Regions from separate parts of the Homo sapiens genome. Here all the other regions are linked to region 2. A link means that fine-mapping ties the variant in region 2 to the expression of a gene that starts in the linked region. Tissue or cell type: whole blood. Region 2 holds a variant in brackets; each other region holds the start of a gene. All regions are shown on one strand. Distances are between the middles of the regions.

Region 1 (5,000 bases), 39 kb before region 2:
AAAAAAAAAAAAAAGGAAAGAAAGAGAGGGAAACAAAGAGAAAAAAAAAGTAATAGACTACTGCCACCTCTGACGTAATGCTCATCCTTCCCAGAAAGAGCAGATTTTCTCTGGCAAATGGTATCAGAGATCAGAAAACAAGCTTCCAAATTCCTTCTGAGGTATCCTCTTACAAGCAGAAGTGCACAAGATTACTGTTTGTAGCCCCAGGTAGGGAGAAAAACGAAACATCATCGCTGGTACTCACATCAGAGGAAGATCAAGGTAGCCAAAGACCCCAGAAGGTCAGACACAAAGACCACTGAGACAGGCAAGGATTAAGGTCAAGGCTGCCTAGAGCAAGCTGGAAAATGAGGGTAATAATTACAAGAGCAGGCCCAGGTATAGGCTTATGGGTACTCGTCTGACTCCAAGGCAAGTGGGCTGTTAGGCACCAGACAACTTAGAAAGAGCAACCTCCCTTGCCTTTTTCACAAAAGGGCCAACAGTCTGGAGATGAGTAGATTATAGGGGTTTGTGCTCCTGTATCACCTCCATTCATCACCTCCTTAGTCAAGGCTCTGAACTGCTTTTTCTCTCCAAGGATCTGAAGCAGGTATGCAAGCAGCAGATGTTGATTTTTGTTTTCATTTTTTTTTTTTTTTTTGAGGCAGGGTCTTGCTCTTTCACCCAGGCTGGAGTACAGTGATGTGATAATAGCTCCTGGGCTCAAGCAATCCTCCAGCCTCAACCTCCCGAGTAGCTAGGACTACAAGTGCGCCACGGAACCTGGCTAATTAAAAAAAATTTTTTTTTGTAGAGGCAGGGTCCTACTGTGTTGCCCGGGCTGGTCTCCAACTCCTGGGCTCAAGCCTTCCTCCCCTTCCACCTCTCAAAGTGCTGGGATTATAGGCATGAGCCACTGCGCCTGGCCGCAATTACCAATTTCTAGGGGTTGTGAAAATGAAATTTGGTATGAAATGTATTTCATTAGGAAGGATGTAATTTCCATACGGGCTGATTTTGTCCACTGCTGTGTCTCCAGCGTCTAGAACAGGGCCTAGCACGTTTGTGTAAACTCTTCTTATAGTCCTCTGCATCGGGAAAGGGATGGGAGGTAGCACTTCCCAACCCACCCCAGTGTCCCACTTGCTCTTCCTTGGCTAAAAATGCAGGCTCATTTTTGCCTCCTCCAGGACTACAGATGGTACGCGGTCCTGTCCAAAGCAGCTTAGCAAAACCGGCCAGAGGCTGGGCACAGTGGCTCACCACTTTGGAACACCTGTAGTCTCAGCACTTTGGGAGGCCTAGGCGGGCGGATGGCTTGACCCCAGGAGTTCGAGCCCAGCCTGGGCAACATGGCGAAACTCCGTCTCTACAAAAACAAAATACAAAAAATTATCCAGGCGTGGTGGCGCCCGCCTGCAATCCCAGCTACTCGAGAGTCTGAGGCGGGAGAATCGCTTAAGCCTGTGAGGCAAAGGCTGCAGTGAGCCGAGATCGCGCCACCGCACTCCGGCCCGGGCGACAGAGCGACACCCTGTGTCAAAACAAAAACCGGGCCGATCCCCAAAACGCCTTTCACCTGTGCTTTCAGCTCACCTCAGGGCTCAGGGCCAGCCCCCAGGCTGCTTCTTGCCCTCCGACAGACGGCCTCCCCCCATCGGTACTCCCCCATCCCGGACAGCTCGTAACGCCCCAGCCGCTCGGCCTGGCACTCCTAGGCAATGGGGGTCAGAGCAGAGGGGCCCATCTGCAGCCCCAGGGCGCACTTCGCGCCACGTGGCTTCTGCAGGTGGAAGTCCAGCCCGCGCTGCAGCCCCGCCTGGGCAGTCAGGACAGCAATCTCAGCACCCACCCGAGATGTGGGGATTGGAGGTAGACAGGGCGAGCGCCATTGTCCCAAGGCCCCTTACCTGGTCCCGGGACAAATGCCACCAGTTACAGCCCGCCTTGAAAACTGGCCCGGGTGAGAGGAGGACCTGGGCTGGGGAACTGCCCCCACGCCCGCCCCACGCCCCTCCTTTTCGACCAATCCCAGGCCGGGAGGCTCCCGCCAGCCACGTGGGCAGGCTTTCTCCACTCCCTGGTCCAGGCGAGCCGGCGGCGGCCTCTGCAGCTCCCGTAGCCCGCCCACTGCGTGGGCGGGCGCCTTAGCGCACTTGCGCACTCTGGGGAAAGCGGAGCTGCACCCCGCCCCGTATTGCTGCTCAGCTCCTCAGCTGTGCGTGCGAGGGACGTCGGGGGCGGCGCCGCAGCAGTTGCCCCTGGTAACGGGGGAGGCAGCAGGAGGAGGAGGAGGAGGAGGGACTCGGCGGGAGGATGGTGAGTGTGGGGGCCTGGGCCCCCTTGGAGCCGGCCGGTTATCCCCCTCCCGTCCCCAGGCCCAGGGCGGAGCACTGCGCTTAAAGCCAAGGAGGGAATGGGACGTCGCTCAGCCTGCTATCTGGGTTGTGGACTGATTTCGGGGGTCGGCGGGGAGACCCGAGGGTGGGCCCTGGAGGGAGGCCTGGGCCTGGAGAGGAAGGCGGGGCTTGCAGCGGGTCCGAGGCTTGGGGAAGGGGCTGGCAGAGTGCGCGGCTGGCCGGGTGCGGAGCCCGGGCTCCATCATTACTCTGGGGACAGGGGTGAGGGCGGATCCCAGGAACTGCGGAGAGCAGCTTTCGCTAGCAGGCTTAGACTTCCCGGGCAATCGGTCTCGCGGCTTTGCAGTAAAGTGGGGTTCGTCTGGAGCCCGGCCAGAAGCGGAGAGAAGGCCGGCCCCATTGGCTCTGAGGTCGCCCTGGCGGTAGCAGGGGAGATGGTAGCCTAGCTCTCCTCCTTCTCGCGCTGTGCGGGCCCCTGGGGGGTAGGGAAGTAAGTCCCACGACACAAAGGGGTGCCGCTTGGAAGGGATGCCTGGTGGATTTTACGCCGTCTTGGTGTCTGCGTGGCGGGTGCGCTTCCTCAGTCCCGAATTATTTAGTTATTTGCTGAGAGTTTTGCAGGATCTGATTGTTGGTGATGACCGATTTTTCATTCAATACATAATCCATGTTGATGAAGACATATTAGCTGCTCCGTCTCTAGAATTTCCTTCGAAACCTTTTGCAGTCTCCTCTTGCGTGTGACCATACCAGGACCAAAAGATCTTAATCCTAGCTTGAGTTCTCCAAACTGAAAAGAACGAGAAGTTAAAAATGGAGATCGAACTTCAATCCGGGGCAAGGCTTTTCTCTGTCAGTCCCAATTAAAGCTTTCCCAAATTCTAAATTATGGTTGTGACAGATCTGACCGTTGACACTCTGTTTCTTGTTAATGTCTGTACAGTTAGTTGGAGGGAGTTAAAATGGAATTGAGTAATTTTAGAGCTATCAAAGAAAAATTGATTTTGAACACTTAAAGCAGGTTAGTTGGCTGCAAAGAGCCTGTCATCAAACTTATAGTCACTGCTCCAACTCTCTTCCTAGTTCCTTTCTTGACTTTTAGAAATGTTGAGCCATTTCTGTTGATTTAAGAAGTAAAAAAAAAAACAAAAAAACTAGATGCCCAGGAAAAAAAAAAATAGATGTATGTTTGGTCAGATTATCCAGTGAGTAGATTTAGAAAGGAAAAAAAAAACTCAATTGATTTTACATTGTCAGATTGTTAAAGAAGTAGGGTTATTTGATCTGAAGTTGCCAATCACATTTCACACTTGCTACACTTGCAGTTTTTTTTTAACCTCAGGCTAAACAGATTTTTACAACTGTTTCTTTTTCTTAATCATTTATACGTGAGCTGTCCTTTTAAAGTTAAAGTTTTTCTCAACAAATGAGTACAAACATAAATATTTACCCAGAAAATAGCTAGAATTGGAATGAAAAGGGCATGCCGAACCAACAGAGATTGAGATTCATCATTATGGATGAGAAGTGCATGAGAGTTGGCTAACTTTTCCCAGTTTGTTGATCAATTAAGTGTACTGTGTAATCCATGATTGTTTAATTTATAATTACAGGCCACAGTAAATTAACCACTGCCCATGTTTCCAGGTGCAAATTGGCACAGTATACAACAAATTTACAGTGTATATACAACACTGTTGTATACAACTGTTGTGTTCAATGATGAAAACAGATTTTGTTTTTCTTTTTTCCTTTTTCCTAAGATGAACAATAAGAAATTAAGACAAATTATTCCGGATTCTTTATCTGGTTTCCCAAAAACATTTTTTTTCTATCTCCACAAGCGTGAGCTGTTCTTAAAACTTGAAGTGAAACACTGAATTTAGTCAGTCGTGTGACTTAAGTGTATCCCATCTGGTATCCCATGAGCCCCCATGGTTAACTGTACAACTGAAGCGTGAACCCCAAGGTTTTTTTGGTTTTTGTTTTAAACTTCAGCTGTGACAAATACATATTTTTTTTCAAATTTGGGTAACTGTGGCAAAAACCCAAATATGGGTTTCTCTGAACATTTAGAGTCAGCTATTTTACCCCTGCTTTACAGTGCCAGGTTCTTGATGAATTACTAAAATACTAAAATGACAGTAATTTTAGCACGTAACTAACCACTTATATTTAACATATGATTCCTTCATTCAGTAATTATTTATGGAGCACTTTCTACATATATGGAGCTTGTGGTCGTTCTCAAGCATGTTCAACATTTGAAGATTGTTCCCAACAGTTACTTATGTTTTCTGGTTAGAAAATGGCCCGTGAAAAATTATTTTAAAAAAATAAACAAAACACGAGGGTAGTCTTTTCAGTGGCTGTTATGTGTCATGCTTTACATACATGACCTCATTTCATCCTCATAGCATCATCTCTTGAGATGTAAGTATTGTTCCTGTTTTCTTCTTTTTTTTTTCTTTTTTTGAGACGGAGTCTTGCTCTGTCACCCAGACTGGAGTGCAGTGGCGCGATCTCCGTTCACTGCAAGCTCCGCCTCCCGGGTTCACGCCATTCTCCTGCCTTAGCCTCCGCAGCAGATGGGACTATGGGCGCCCGCCACCACGCCCGGCTAATTTTGTGTGTGTGTGTTTTTAGTAGAGACGG
Region 2 (8,174 bases):
CTGTCCTGTGCCTTCATCTCCTCAGCTGTGATAGAGAAATAACACCAGCACCTACTTTGCAGGCTTCTACAAGGATTGACTTAAAAGATGTGAATTAAGTGGGCTGTGGGCTAGACATCATGTTAGGTTCTGGGAATATAATCTCCAGCAAGTCTGATGGGAGCCTCCCCTAGGGGAGCTTGGGCACCACCATTGCCTTTCCTTTCCAGGAGGCAGCTTGACAAAGCTTGCCCTGATGTGATTGACAAAGCTTGCCCCAGCTAGATCCATGGCCACGTGATTGAGGAGGTACCATTGTTGGCCAATGCCTCCCCTTCCCTCCCCTCCCACCTCCAGCCCAGTTCTCTTCTGCCCAGCACAAGAAAGATGCCACTCCCCAAGCACTAGCCGCTTCAGATTAGAGGGGCCTCCCGGGCCCAGGGCAGCCACAGGGCTCGGTCCCCTGTTTACGCTCCCTGTGCTTCCCACACTCAGGGTTGCAGCGGCAGCTGCAGGGGCCCAGGCCGGGGGTCAGCTGGCAGGGACTGGCCTCTGTGCGCCCTCTGTTGGCAGGACAGTGGCTAGAAGGGCTTCACCACTGCTGGCCCTCACAGGCACCTGGAGACACCAGACACTGTCCCTCAGCAGGGCTCTGCCGTTTGAACCCTCCTTTGCCTCCATAACAGAGACCCGGCATAAAACCACCCCACACCCTCCACCTTCTGCTTTGGGCTCCTGCAGCTGAGTAAATATTTTTCCTATCTCTTTGCCTGCATTCATGTTCAGTTATATGCAATAATCTCTCCTTAATCAGCCATAAAGCAAGGAAAAGGCAAAGCGCTATTCACATAGTGTGGGCACACTGTCCTTGATTTCTCTGAGAAGATGGTTTGAGTGCGAGCCTCCGTAGAGGAGAGAGTGTTGAGGTGCCCACCTTTGAGTGTTTGTGTGAGCCCCTGAAGGTGGAAAGTGCTATGTAAGTGCTGAGCTATTCAGCTTCCCAGGCGAGAGAAGATGCTTATCTTATTCATCCCTCTTTTATTTGTAAAATCTTTTTTGTCTCTTGACAGGTGATCTTTTTTTTTTCCTGGAAACCAATTAGCTACTAAAATTAAACATGCTTCTCTTTAAATTAATCCTTTTCATAAAATGGTCTTAAAATTGGCCTTAGCTTCTCAGAGTAAGTAGCTGACCCCATTGTAATTAGAGATGCGTTTGGAGTCCTCATTTCTCCCACCTCGGCATTCCTCTGCCCTTCCCCCTGCTGCTGCCAGGTGCTGTCCACCTTCGGGCTTTCGGCGCCACCGGCCTCATCTTGGCAAAGGTCAGATGTCGGCTCTGGGACAGCCGTCAGATTATCTAGTTCTGCTGCCCAAGTGCACTGACAGCAACTGGCAGAGTTGTAATCACTGTAAATTCAGGTGACGGTCAGATGAGCCAGGAGAGAGGATGCCTGCTGGTTGTTTTTTTGCAGTGATGTATTGTTTATGGGATTAATGTTCCGAATGGCCAAGGGTGTCAGCTGATATTTATTACTGTAAGCTGTCTCAGCTGTTCAGGTTCGGCAGCTAGATCCATGGCCACAGGAAATGTGGGACTCGGTGGCATGTCCAGTATGGCTGATGTGTGCAGATGTAGCTGGGACCTCCGTGAGCCTCTGTTACAGATGCAAGGGGAAGGACTCATGGCAGCAGCTGCCTTGGATTTTGTTCAGGGCTTCTGAGGGAACTCCACACACTCTTGAAGGTTGGGGAGACTCTAGGGAAGGGGAGAGTGTCCAGGTTTGGCTCCAAAGGGGGTTGGGAAGGAGTTCACCTCTGACAGGCCTGGCATCCGTAGGAATTATGCTGCCTGCCAGGTAGCTGTAGGCATTGTGTGATTTTTACCTTGGTCCCTCTTCAGCCTTCTAAGAGAGGGCGCTTTCAAGGTCATTGTGCCTTTAAGGGAACCTTCTCCCCAGTCCCTCTGGATGCTGGTGCTTAAAGCTATAAGAAGCGGGCCAGACCCTTTTAAACCTATCTGGAGTGCTGCAGGAAGAGAAGTAAATGCACATCGCCCTGGTGTGTGCCTCGCAACACTCACTGCAGTAGGTTTGTTTTTCCAAAAAGAAATTTAATTTAACCCAAGTGTACACTGTCACACTGTAAACACATGGGGCACCAAAAGGGTGGCTTATTGAATTTAATGCCCTGGCAAAGGTCACCTTTTAGAAAAAGCCAAAAATGGCTGGAATCTTTCCTGATAGCTCTTCAGTCAGGCTTTGGATGCAGGCAGATGTGTTTATTTTTTCAGAGGGAGTTCCTGAGGACCCATCTCAAGTTCAGGCGCTGGGCATCCCCCTCCCATCGCCCTCTTGTGCTCTCAGAGACCTCCCTCCTCCTCCTCCTGGGAGGTCACTGTCCCTGGTCACCCAGGTGGGCCCCTGAGCCAAGCAAACTCCCTAAAGCTGGCGGTCTGGGAGGGAGGGCCTGGGACCCCCACTGCCCGCCCCTCCAGGCTAGAGTGTGTGGTGCTTTTCTTATAACTAACACTGCCTTTCTCTGCCCATTTCCCTCAAAGGATGGCATGAACTGGGTCTGCAAAAATGTCAATGCAAAGAAGAAATAAAATCTAGACGAATGGAGATGCAGGAGCTGCGGGAGCCGAATTCGGTCCTGAAAAACACTAATTTGCTGCTTTCTGACCAAATGTTTTTCCATCTGTGTACAGCTCCAGCTGTTTGAAGAGAGGGAACAACACGGTTTAGAAAGAATCCCCATTCCAGCAGTAGATTTAACTGATCTCTGAGGTTCAGTATCATTTTTCAAATAAAGGAATTATATTATTTCCTCTGCATAATTGAAATAGTATTAAATGTCTCAAAGCACATGATTAGAAAATGAGATCTTTTAAATGAGCAAGAGATTGCATTGCAGTTTAGACAATTCCAGTGGGCTTTTTTTTCCTCTCAAAAAAAAAAAAAGAAAAAGAAAAAGAGGAAGAAGCAGCTTTGCTGAGTTCATTTATTTACTGACCCGTCCCTTGCATTCCCTCCATGGTTTTGAAACCACAGACAGTGTTTGCTGGTGCTGTCAGTGATTTTTACCGTCACTAGCCCAGCCAGGCTTCAGTCTGTCCGACAGGAAGCTGCTGGGTGGGGGTGGGGGGAGAAAAGGCAGATAATTAAACCATCTCATCGTCTTGCAGGTCGGAGACTACGTATGTAATCCTCACTCTTTGGACAGAAAAAAAAAAAAAA[G/AG]TCTTTCTTGCAGACAAGTCACTACAGAAACATACCCCATCCCACCCACCCCTGCCTCTGCCCCAGCCAGCCACACAGAGAAGCAAATTCTTATGACTTTTGACTGTAATGACATCTGGAATGTAAGGAGAGGTGGGAGGTTTAATTCCAGAAAAATTACAAGGTCCTTAAAAAGCTCTCACATCGAGGGCTCAGGCTAGCGTAAACAGGCTTTCTCCAGCTCAGTGGAGCAGTGAGCAGCCGACTCTGAGATTAGCTGGCTTCTCCACGGCCGTCCTATAGACAGGATTTCTAAAGCTCAAAGAATTCTGTGTTTAAACGATCACAATAGGCCGCTGCTATCAGATTTTAGAAATAAATGCAGCTTTACCATGAACCTGCTCCACTGAGAAAAGCCAGGCAGATCGATTTTTAGATCAATTTTTACAGTGCTGGCAACTTGGTGGTGTGGGATGCTCCTGGATGGAGAGGGTTTGCTGCTGGGGAGGACATGGGTGTGTGTGTGACTGCAGGGGTCGTGTCCAAGGAATCAAGAGTCACCCCAGCTGCTGGGCTCCTCTGCCTCTCTGCAGCAGAATGTCCGTCCTCTGTTGATTGATTGGAGAGGAATAGCAGAACATTTCTCCTGCCCCTCGTTGCAAAACGAGCTTGTTTCCCTGAACCTCAGAAATCCTCAGCTTCAAACATGGGGAAACAGGCCAGAGCATTGCCCGGCTCCTGAATTAAACTCTGTTCTGGTGCCTGAGCTCAGGGGTTTTCAGAGAATGAATAAGAGACTGTCCAGTGACTGGTGGGTCCCTGGGGGCCAGCTGCCTTCTCATCCTGGGAGGTGGCCCTTCCCAAGCCCATCAGGGCGTGTGAGCAGACTGAAGGGGCCGCTGCAGCCCCTGGCCCTCAATACCCAGCTGCTTCTGGCTAAGAGTGCAGCAGAGACTGAGGCATAGCCAGCTTCAAAAGCGATCTGACATGAAAGTCATTAACAAAGCCAGCCGTGAAAAGGTGCCCCAGAGTTGCTGTGGACAGACCTGTAAGGACTTGCAAAACAAAAGAAAGTGAGGGGTTTTTTTAACCTCAGAGCTAGCTGCTCTCTGCAGCCTCCTCCACTGGCTTCTCTGGCTCACCCAAGCTCTCCCTTACAGAGGCAACACAGAATTATAAGGAATCAGAAATCCCCCTTCTACCAGGCTGCAAATGTGGCTCTAGCACTTGCAAATTGTTTTTTCTTCCGAATAGTTCAGCAGGGACAAGTTATCTGAGGGGCAAAATGCCTGCTTGGAGGTCTGCAATTTTGGAACACTGCAGTATGGAACTTTGGCATTGGAGGGTCTGTAAAATATTTTTGTTCTTTTACCACCAACTTAGGGGACTGTTTTAAAGAGCCATCCCAAGGCCTCTCCTAGCAGGCAGAAGCCACTCCTCTGATAACGGCCTCTGTAAATGTTCTGATTTGCTCTCAGCTGCAGAGACACAGAGACACTGCAGATGTCACACGCTTTCATCTTCCCTTTGAGCCCTTTTGAACCCTCCTGGGGCTCTGGGGTAGATGAGAGAAGCCTGAAAAAGGCAGAGTTTGAAAGCTCCCATTTAAAAACAAAATACTTTTTAAAGCCCTCTTGCCTCTTCCCTGCCCACTCCTGCCCCCTGACCAGAAGACAGAATTTGAAGCTGGAAAGGGAAGACCCCTTTTCCCCTCCTCCTGTCCCCAGTGAGTCTTAGCGAGACTTTTGCCCTGCGCACAATTGCATCTGAATGTGCGGGGGAGAGGGCTGGGGGCCGGAGGGCAGGCAAGGCCTGGGGGGTGCTCGTGATATGTGCTCAAGCCAGTTGTGGGAAAAACTCGAGTCCTCCCCTCCTCCCGACCTACCCCGTGTGGCTGCTTTTGGCTGGATTCCCTGCACCCAGTGCAACACACCCTTTCCCCTTCACTCTCCCTTGGTTACTATGGAAACAAGGGTGTCATTGATGTGGGCTGAGCTGGGGAACATGTCGGTGCACAGCTGAAAGTCAGCGATTATGCCGGCGGTTAGAAATGTGCCAGGGTTAAAGGAGTCCGCAGCTCCCACGGCTGCTGGGAGGACATGGTCCTGCCCCCTTCCTTCCTCCCTCCCTCCGTCTCCACTTCTCTCTCCTTGCTTTTGACAAATTTCTTTATTCCCCTCTGGACTAAAGTAGTGGCTATTTTTGTGCCACTCTGCGCCCCACCCTCACTGTTGGCCGCTCCTTATCCGGCCTGGCCTGGAGGGTGACACCATGTCACCCTCACCAGGACTCGTCTCTCCATTCCCGTCAGAGTTTGCTTTGATTTCCCTTTCCTTTCCTTCTCGGGGACCAGTTCTTACTTCCTTTTATTTTTAGCTCTGCACTCCATGTGGTTTCAGGGTTCAGTCTGATCCATCAAAAGGTTCTTTTTTTATAATCCCTTTTGAAAATGATAATCAAAGGAAGAGATGTGGTGTTTGGTCATGTGGAAAACTCAATGTATAATTTAGACGTCTGTCAAAAATCCGACAAATAAAATTTAGCTGGAACGAAGGCAGCCTGGAATGTGTTGTGTTCTTTGCTGAAGCTCAGAGAGGGCCTGAAATGTGTTTGTCCTTTCAGGGGTTAGCTTTCTTCAAGAGGTTTTTTCCAGAAGGATATATATATAAAATAGGATACCAACAATAGCAATAATAGCCCTTCATTAAGCCCCTCCTACGTGCCGGGCACTTCAGATACATCGTGGTGAGCATTAGTCCCCCTTTGCAGCAGAGGACATTGAGACATTTGCCCCAGTTAAGGAATTTGCCTGAAATCACAGAGCCTTTAAGTGCAGGTGGGGCCTGGAGCCTGGGTCTCAATGCTCAGCAAGCTGCCGCCTCTGGAGAACAAAAACAGTCAATGGCAAGGCCGGATCACGCCTGTAATCCCAGCACTTTCAGAGGCCAAGGCAGGTAGATCTCCTGAAGTCAGGAGTTCAAGACGAGCCTGACCAACATGGTGAAATCCCGTCTCTACTAAAAATACAAAATTAGCCGGGCGTGGTGGCACGTGCCTGTAATCCCAGCTGCTTGGGAGGCTGAGGCAGGAGAATTGCTTGAACCCAGGAGTCAGAGGTTGCAGTGAGCTGAGATCGTGCCATTGCACTCCAGCCTGGGCAACAGGAGAAAACTCCATTGCAAAAAAAAAAAAAAAAAAAAAATTTGTCAATGGCTCATCTCCCAGCAGCCTCAGCCCCCCCAGCCTCTGAGTGCTACTTCTGCCCAGCCTCCTCCCCTCAGCCTCTGACAAGCACTGCTCCCCTGGGTTCCCTGCCCCAGGTGTTGGGTGTCCTCTGCTCACACAGCACAACCATAGACTGGGTTTCATCCTTGGCCAAGTCCAGCCCAACAGACAGGAAAAAGGGAGAAGAAATAATTAGCAAAGTTAGGGCCTTCAGGGAGACTTGCAGTTACATAGTACCTAATACTGGATCTTCCATTTACAGAGGGTTCCGAGAGGGAACAGACCTGCCCAGTGTTACATGGAAGGTGCAGAGTTGGCAGCTGTCCCGGGCTCTGCCCTCTGGAGCAGAAGAGTTCGTTGTCCCTTCAGCAGGCTAGAGACACAGCAGCACAGCTGGTCCCAAAGGGCCTCACCATTTGTGTGTGTGTGTGTGTGTTTTGTGTTTTTGAGACAGGACTTCGCTCTGTCACCCAGGCTGGAGTGCAGTGGCACAGTCACAACTCACTGCAGCCTCAACCTCCTGGGCTCAGGCCATCCTCCCAACTCAGCCTCCCAAGTGGCTGGGACTAGAGGCATGTACCACCATGTCTGGCTAATTTTTTTTTTTTTTTTTTGAGACAGTCTCGCTCTGTCGCCCAGGCTGGAGTGCAGTGGCGCAATCTCAGCTCACTGCAAGCTCCGCCTCCCGGGTTCATGCCATTCTCCCACCTCAGCCTCCCTAGTAGCTGGGACTACAGGCGTCTGTCACCACGCCGGCTAACTTTTGGGGTTTTTTTGTATTTTTAGTAGAGATGGGGTTTCACCGTGTTAGCCAGGATGGTCTCAATCTCCTGACCTCGTGATCTGCCCACCTCGGCCTCCCAAAGTGCTGGGATTACAGGCGTGGGCCACTGCGCCCGGCCTTTAAAGAGCAAGCTGTGGGCAGAACTAGCTGGTAGCTGGAAGCAGGAGAAAGAAGAATTAGGGTTGCCAGATACATTACAGAACATTCAGTTAAACTTGAATTTCAGATAAACAATGAATAGTTTTTAATTCAAGTATATCCCATGCAATATTTGGGACATCAGTATAACATTAGAAAAATGCATTGTTTACCTTAAATTCAAATTTAACTGGCCATCCTAGCTTTTTGGTTTTGTTTTGATAAAGCTGGCAAAACCCTTCCCAGCACTCCCTGCCCAAAAAAGGGACAGCGCAGTGCAATTAAAAAGTGTGGCTGGGTGCGGTGGCTTATGCCCATAATCCCAGCATTTTCATGTTGACTAGGTCAGCACAGGGAGATTTAAAAGAGATCTCATGTAAACAAAGTGCCTAGATCTAGGACAATACCTAGCACATAGAAGGAACATTCCATGCCTCAGTTTCTTTTTCTTTTCTTTTTTTTTTTGGAGACGGAGTTTCGCTCTTCTGCCCAGACTGGAATTCAGTGGCACGATCTCGGCTCACTGCAACCTCCACCTTCCAGGTTCAAGCGATTCTCCTGCCTCAGCCTCCCGAATAGCTGGGATTACAGGCATGTGCCACCATCCCCAGCTAATTTTTGTATTTTTCGTAGAGATGGGGTTTCACCATATTGACTAGGCTGGTCTTGAACTCCTGACCTCAGGTGATCCACGTGCTTTGGCCTCCCAAAGTGCTGGGATTATAGGCGTGAGCCACCGTGCCTGGCCCTCAGTTTCTTATCTTCAAAATTGGGCAATAATCATGCTGCACAGTTGTCAAGAGGATGAGATGAGATGTCCGTACAGTGAGT
Region 3 (5,000 bases), 30 kb after region 2:
CCCCTCCTCTCCCTCCTGGGAGGGCAGGCAGGGCCCCTATTCCTCCACATTCAATAAGTCAAACTCATACTTGAGTGACACTGGGCTACTGAAGGGTTTCCAACCCCAGTGGCCTGGGGCACCAGAAAGAATCAGGGGCCTGGGGAGGGGGAACCTGGAGAAGGATGAGGCTCAGGCTGCCACTGCAGGGCACAGCTGCTGAACGCACAGAATTGCACATCTGGCCCTGATGCAACCCACTACTTCTGAGCCTGCCCACACCAGGCACAAGAAAGCACGCGCATGCACGCGCACGCACACACACGCACACACGCACACACACACCCTGCGGAGTTGCCGACAAAGTTCAGTGCCTGCTTCCATCCAATCCACGAGTCTGGAAATGAGGGGCCTGCTGGGGGGCACCCCAGGGAATACTCTGCATGCACATGCCACCCACCCACCCCTGCCTGTGCCCTGAACTGTAGAGACAGGAGACAGGTGCATTGGAGGGCGAAGCACACAGTCTCAAAGACATTCAAAAACACAGACACCTAAAGCTATCCTCCTACACCAAGTCAGGTATAATGACGTTTTCTCCCCCACCCCAATTAAAGACATCCCTAGAACTCAGACCAGCTACAGCAGCACTGTGGGTGCGGGCAGGCATCCGCCCATCGCCCAGGTTGCTGCCCCTCCCCTGTTCCTTTCAGCCACATCTCCTTTCCCCTCCTCTCATTTTCCACTGCCAATCCCAGGACAGAACTGGACAGCCCTCCTTTCTCCTGCCTCTGCACTTTTCCCGGCCTCCTCCCCCAGCCCTTCCATCTTTATTAATAGCAGCAGCTTCCCAATACTGGGGAAAGTGTGGGCTGTGCCTGCCCTGAACGGGGATGGAGGACACAGGGGGTGGAGGACACACTTCCTTTAAGAAACCAGAGGCCTATCCTGGCACACAAACCCAGGGCTAGTCCATCCGATTGGAAACTAATTATACAGCAAATCGTATTTGCTGCCCCCGCCCCAGCCTGTGGTGGCCCTCCTGCCTTTTGTTGGTTGTATGTGTATGTTTTTTAATTGCTAAACAGTGACTCATTCTGACTGGTCCCCCCACACAGGAAACAGCCCCATCTCCAATCATGCCCTGAACAGAGCTTCCTCATAGCCAGCCTCCGCACTGGCCTCCACTAACCTCCAGGGATCCCCACCCAGAGACACTCCCAGTCCCACCAGAGTGCAGCCTAGCCCCCAGATATCACACCCAGGCCCCAGGCCCCAAGGTGGGGCTTCAGAGAGGACTCCTCGGTGTCAGGCCAACCCCTTCATTTTGGTATGACTCAACCCTGAAAGCCAGAGGACTGGGGAGGGACCTAGGAGGAGCCCCCTCCACTGAAGGGGACGGAAGTATTGCCTCAGTCCAGCTCCAAAACCAGGCCCAGAGGCCTGAGGGGGGAGGCGGTTTGACATTGGCCGCGGCCGCAGGGTGTATACAATGGGAGGGGACGCGGTTCCGTAATCACCCAGCCGGCAGCCCAGGGGAGCCAGCTGCCTGAAACCAGATTTCAAGGCGGCTCAACCTTAAACCCACAGGATTCTTTTTCCGTCTTCCACTTCCCCTCCCCAAATGTGGGAGGGCGGCGAGAGGGCTGTGCTAGGCGAAAGGGCCAGGATGATGAAGACAGATACTTGAAGGCTTGTTCATGCGGCCCGTGCGACACACAGGCACACAGGGCAGCGATTCTCACACAGGGAGAGCCGGCTCTCGGGAGGAATCCAAATAGCGGAGCCGCTGTCGGGGCCTCGCTGGCTGCCCAGGCCCTGTCCAGAGAGACGGCCGGAGTTCTGCTCTCCCTCTGGAAACTCCCCCCACTCCCCCCCCAGTGTGTTTCCAATAGCGCTGAAAACTAACATGGCTGCTTTTGTTTACTTCCTCATTGGTATGCCAGCATCATGGATCATGTCAGCCACAGCAGCGGCACCGGGACACTCATTACATAAACAGCAGCTGGAGAGGCAGGACCGGGGTCACTGCCTCGGTGACTTCCCGTAGGGCCTACAGCAACAAGACTGGGGGAGGGAGCTGCGCACCACAGAAAAGCAACACCCAGACTCTACCCCTGACGGTCCCACACCCCAATCCCATAAAGCACTCAGAAGACGGACCCTGTGCGCACAGGTGCGAGAATGTACCAAGTAGCGACCCGGGGCCCTTCTTCCCAGGACCCTGTCCCCAAACTTTCAGAGAAGAGTTTGGCCAGGGGCCACTGGCCTGATGTCACAAGAGTCAGCCTGTCGGGATGGGTGGTCCCGGGGCGGGAGAGAGGAAGGGACTGTGTGTCTGTGTGTGTGTGTGTGCGCGCGCGCGCGTAGGGTACTTGCCCGGATTTCATTCCTTCGGATCTCCACGTCGCACACCGAGTGTCCCTGATGCGCGCCGCTGTAGTAGCAGCAGTACTGGCACACGGCCACCTGCTCGGCCTCGCAGTGGTAGAGGCGGTAGGCGTTGTGCTGCGGGCAGCTCCAGGCCCGCACGTCGTCCGCCTCCACCAGGAGGTGCCCGCGGGCGGTGGAGGGCTGCTGCAGGTGCGTCTGCACGTGGGACTGGCAGCAGGGCGCCTCGCAGCGCAGGCAGACCTTCTGCGCGGGCAGCGGGGGGCCGCGGCGGCAGAACACGCAGTGCAGCGCCGCCGGCGGCTTCTCCACGTGCAGGGCATTGAACTTCTCCACGATGTTGGTGAGCTTCAGGTTCTTCTCCAGGCCCGGCTTCTGGTTGTAGGCCTGGTTGCACTCTGGGCAGCGTACGAGGCCGCTGTCCTTGGCCCACGCCTCGCCGATGCAGCCCCGGCAGAAGTTGTGTTTGCACGGCAGCTGCACTGGCTCCACGAAAACGTGCAGGCAGATAGGGCAGATGAGCTCCTCCTCGAAGCAGTTCTTCCAATTCTCCGCCATGGCGGCCGCGGGCAGGGGGCCGGGGCAGGCCTCCCCGACTCCCCAGCCCCGGGGGTCCGTCCGGAGCCGCTGTAGGCCCACCGAGCCCCGAGCTCCGGCCCCAGCCGGCCCCGACGGTCGCTCAGTCAGCAGCGCCTTCCGCGTGCCCGCCCCCCGGAGGAGGGAGCCGCGGTCCTCACGCCGCGCGCGCAGCGGGCTGCGTCTCCTCCTCCTCCCGAGCGCCTAGCGGGAGGCGGCGGACTGCGCCAGGGCCGCGGCCGGGACTCCAGCCTTGGAGGGGAGCGCCGGGGTCCAAATTCCATATAAGAGGCCGCCTCCCCGTCGGCGCGGCTAGGGCAGTGGCGGCCCGCGGCCTGCGCTCGTCCCCGCGGCTGACATTGGGGCGCGCCCCGCGGCAGACGGAGCTTGGGAGCAGCACACTTCTTCCGGCGGCGGCGGCAGCGGCGGCTCCTGCCTGGCTCGTCGGCGCCGCACCTCCCTCGCAGGGGCCGGAGCCCGGGGTCTGCGGGGCCAGGAGGCGAGGGCGGCCGCGCCGAGGGCTGCTAGATCCGGACGGGGCGGGAGGGGCAGGCCGGCGGTCCCCGGGCCACGGTGCAGGCGTCCCCCGGCTGGCTGGCCGGGCGCGGGCTGCGGGGCGCGGGCGGGCCGACTCCGGGGCGCTGCGTGCGCGCAGGGGCAGTCATTCAGATGAAATTCCAGTCCCCGGCCAGAGACACCAGCCCGCCTCTGCCTTCCTCCTCCCTTCACAAATAGAAACGGAAGGGGGAGGGAGAGAAGTGGAAAAAAAGGCAACCGGCGAGGGAGGGAGGGAGAAGCCCCGGCGGCGCTCCGGCCTGACCCCCGGGCGGCTACTTCTGCGCTCCCCCGAGGCCCGGCGCCCCCGCCGCGGAGAGACCCCGCGCGCCCGTCTCCGCGCTGGGCGGGCGCCCGGGCTCTGCCGAGGAAAACAAGGATTGATCAAACTAGAAAGGAATTTTTCTCAACTGCTAATGAACAGGAGGCTCGGCTCCCGGCCCTCCCCTCCCCTCCCCCGGCCCTCCCCCTTCGCCCCCCCGGCCCCCTCCTCCCCACTTTCTTTTCTTCTCGGCCTCTGCTGGGGCCTGGAAGGCTCGGGGCTGCGGTCGGAGCCAGCCTGCGGCGGCGGGGCCAGGCCGAGCCGCCACCCTCAGCGCCCAGCCATCTTGGGCTCCGCGGCGGCGGCCGGGGTCTGGGCGCGCTCGCTGAGGGCCCCGCGGCGTCCTCTCGCTCCTGATTCTTTTTTTTTTTTTTTTGGTGGGATTTTTTTTTTTCCAAGGGGAGGGCTGGCGGCCTCCAACAAATTAGGAGAGAGAGAGGGAGAAAATGCCAAGTCCCGATTTCTCTCCACCTCTGCTCCACCCACCCCGGTCCTGTCCAAAAAATAAAAGAAGATGAGAATTGGAAGAAGTCGGCAGAAAGGCGAGAGCCCGCGGTCCCCGGCTGCTGCCCAGGCGACGCGTCCGGGGCGGGCCCGCACCCGTTGCTCGGTCCGAGGTCCGTCTGTCTGCCCGCGGCTTCTCAAGGGAGGGGAGGGCGCTTCGGGCAGGGTCTCCGCAGCCGCTGTCGCCTCAGAGCTTTATCCTCAGATCAAAAAAGAAAAAACAGGAAGAAAAAAATCCCAACCCCAACACTCTCATCACAGCCACCTTCAGCCATCTTGCGCGTATTATTATTTCAGGAATAATCTGTTTAATAAAAATACCTGCGTATCCAGCCCCTCCCCCGCGTCCTGGGGTCCCCGCCCCCTTTTAATAATAATCTCGATAATAAAAACGATCGGCGGGCCGGGCAGTCCGTGGCGGCCCTTTCCTGCCTCGACTTGCTCGGGCCCGGCTCTCCCCCCGCGAAGGGGCGCCCCGGGGTGGGGGTGCGTCCCCGTCACCCGCGCGGGGAGGAAAGGGCGCCCTCGCCGCCGCCGCGAGGAAGGCGGCGGCGGAGATGCCGCGGCCCGCGGGACCAGCCGGAGGGGCACTCGGGGGTCCCGGGGCCCCCGCCACGGCCCGGCCTGGGAGTCCGCAGCCGGCCGTATACAATGGGTTCGGAGCAGAGCGGGG

The links. PIP is the estimated chance that this variant, and not a neighbour inherited with it, causes the effect.
Region 1: ARL3 starts here. The variant in region 2 is fine-mapped to the expression of ARL3 in whole blood (INTERVAL, PIP above 0.99).
Region 3: it holds the start of TRIM8, and the variant in region 2 is fine-mapped to the expression of TRIM8 in whole blood (INTERVAL, PIP above 0.99).

What each region holds. Positions count from the first base shown.
Region 1 is chr10:102,711,577-102,716,576 of GRCh38, reverse strand. It overlaps ARL3 (ARF like GTPase 3), which reads left to right and starts at 2,180. Exons shown (of 6, transcript NM_004311.4): 1 at 2,180-2,304. The coding sequence starts at 2,302. It overlaps SFXN2 (sideroflexin 2), which reads right to left and starts at 1,941. Exons shown (of 12, transcript NM_178858.6): 1 at 1,896-1,941. RefSeq lists enhancers at 963-1,538, 1,539-2,115 and silencers at 1,901-2,050, 1,869-2,263, 2,331-2,380, 2,421-2,520.
Region 2 is chr10:102,671,306-102,679,479 of GRCh38, reverse strand. It overlaps ARL3 (ARF like GTPase 3), which reads left to right. Exons shown (of 6, transcript NM_004311.4): 6 at 2,539-5,749. The coding sequence ends at 2,586. Among named protein-coding and RNA genes, the nearest start is that of TRIM8, 31 kb to the right of the region's middle. RefSeq lists an enhancer at 5,126-5,675. The variant G/AG (reference allele first, on the strand shown) is at 3,218.
Region 3 is chr10:102,642,546-102,647,545 of GRCh38, reverse strand. TRIM8 (tripartite motif containing 8) reads right to left here and starts at 3,067. Exons shown (of 6, transcript NM_030912.3): 1 at 2,359-3,067. The coding sequence starts at 2,928. It overlaps TRIM8-DT (TRIM8 divergent transcript), which reads left to right and starts at 4,357. Exons shown (of 1, transcript NR_186489.1): 1 at 4,357-4,754. RefSeq lists silencers at 1,416-1,632, 2,918-3,897, 3,978-4,077, 4,348-4,407, 4,738-5,000 and enhancers at 1,808-1,907, 2,688-2,817, 2,919-3,674, 3,675-4,429.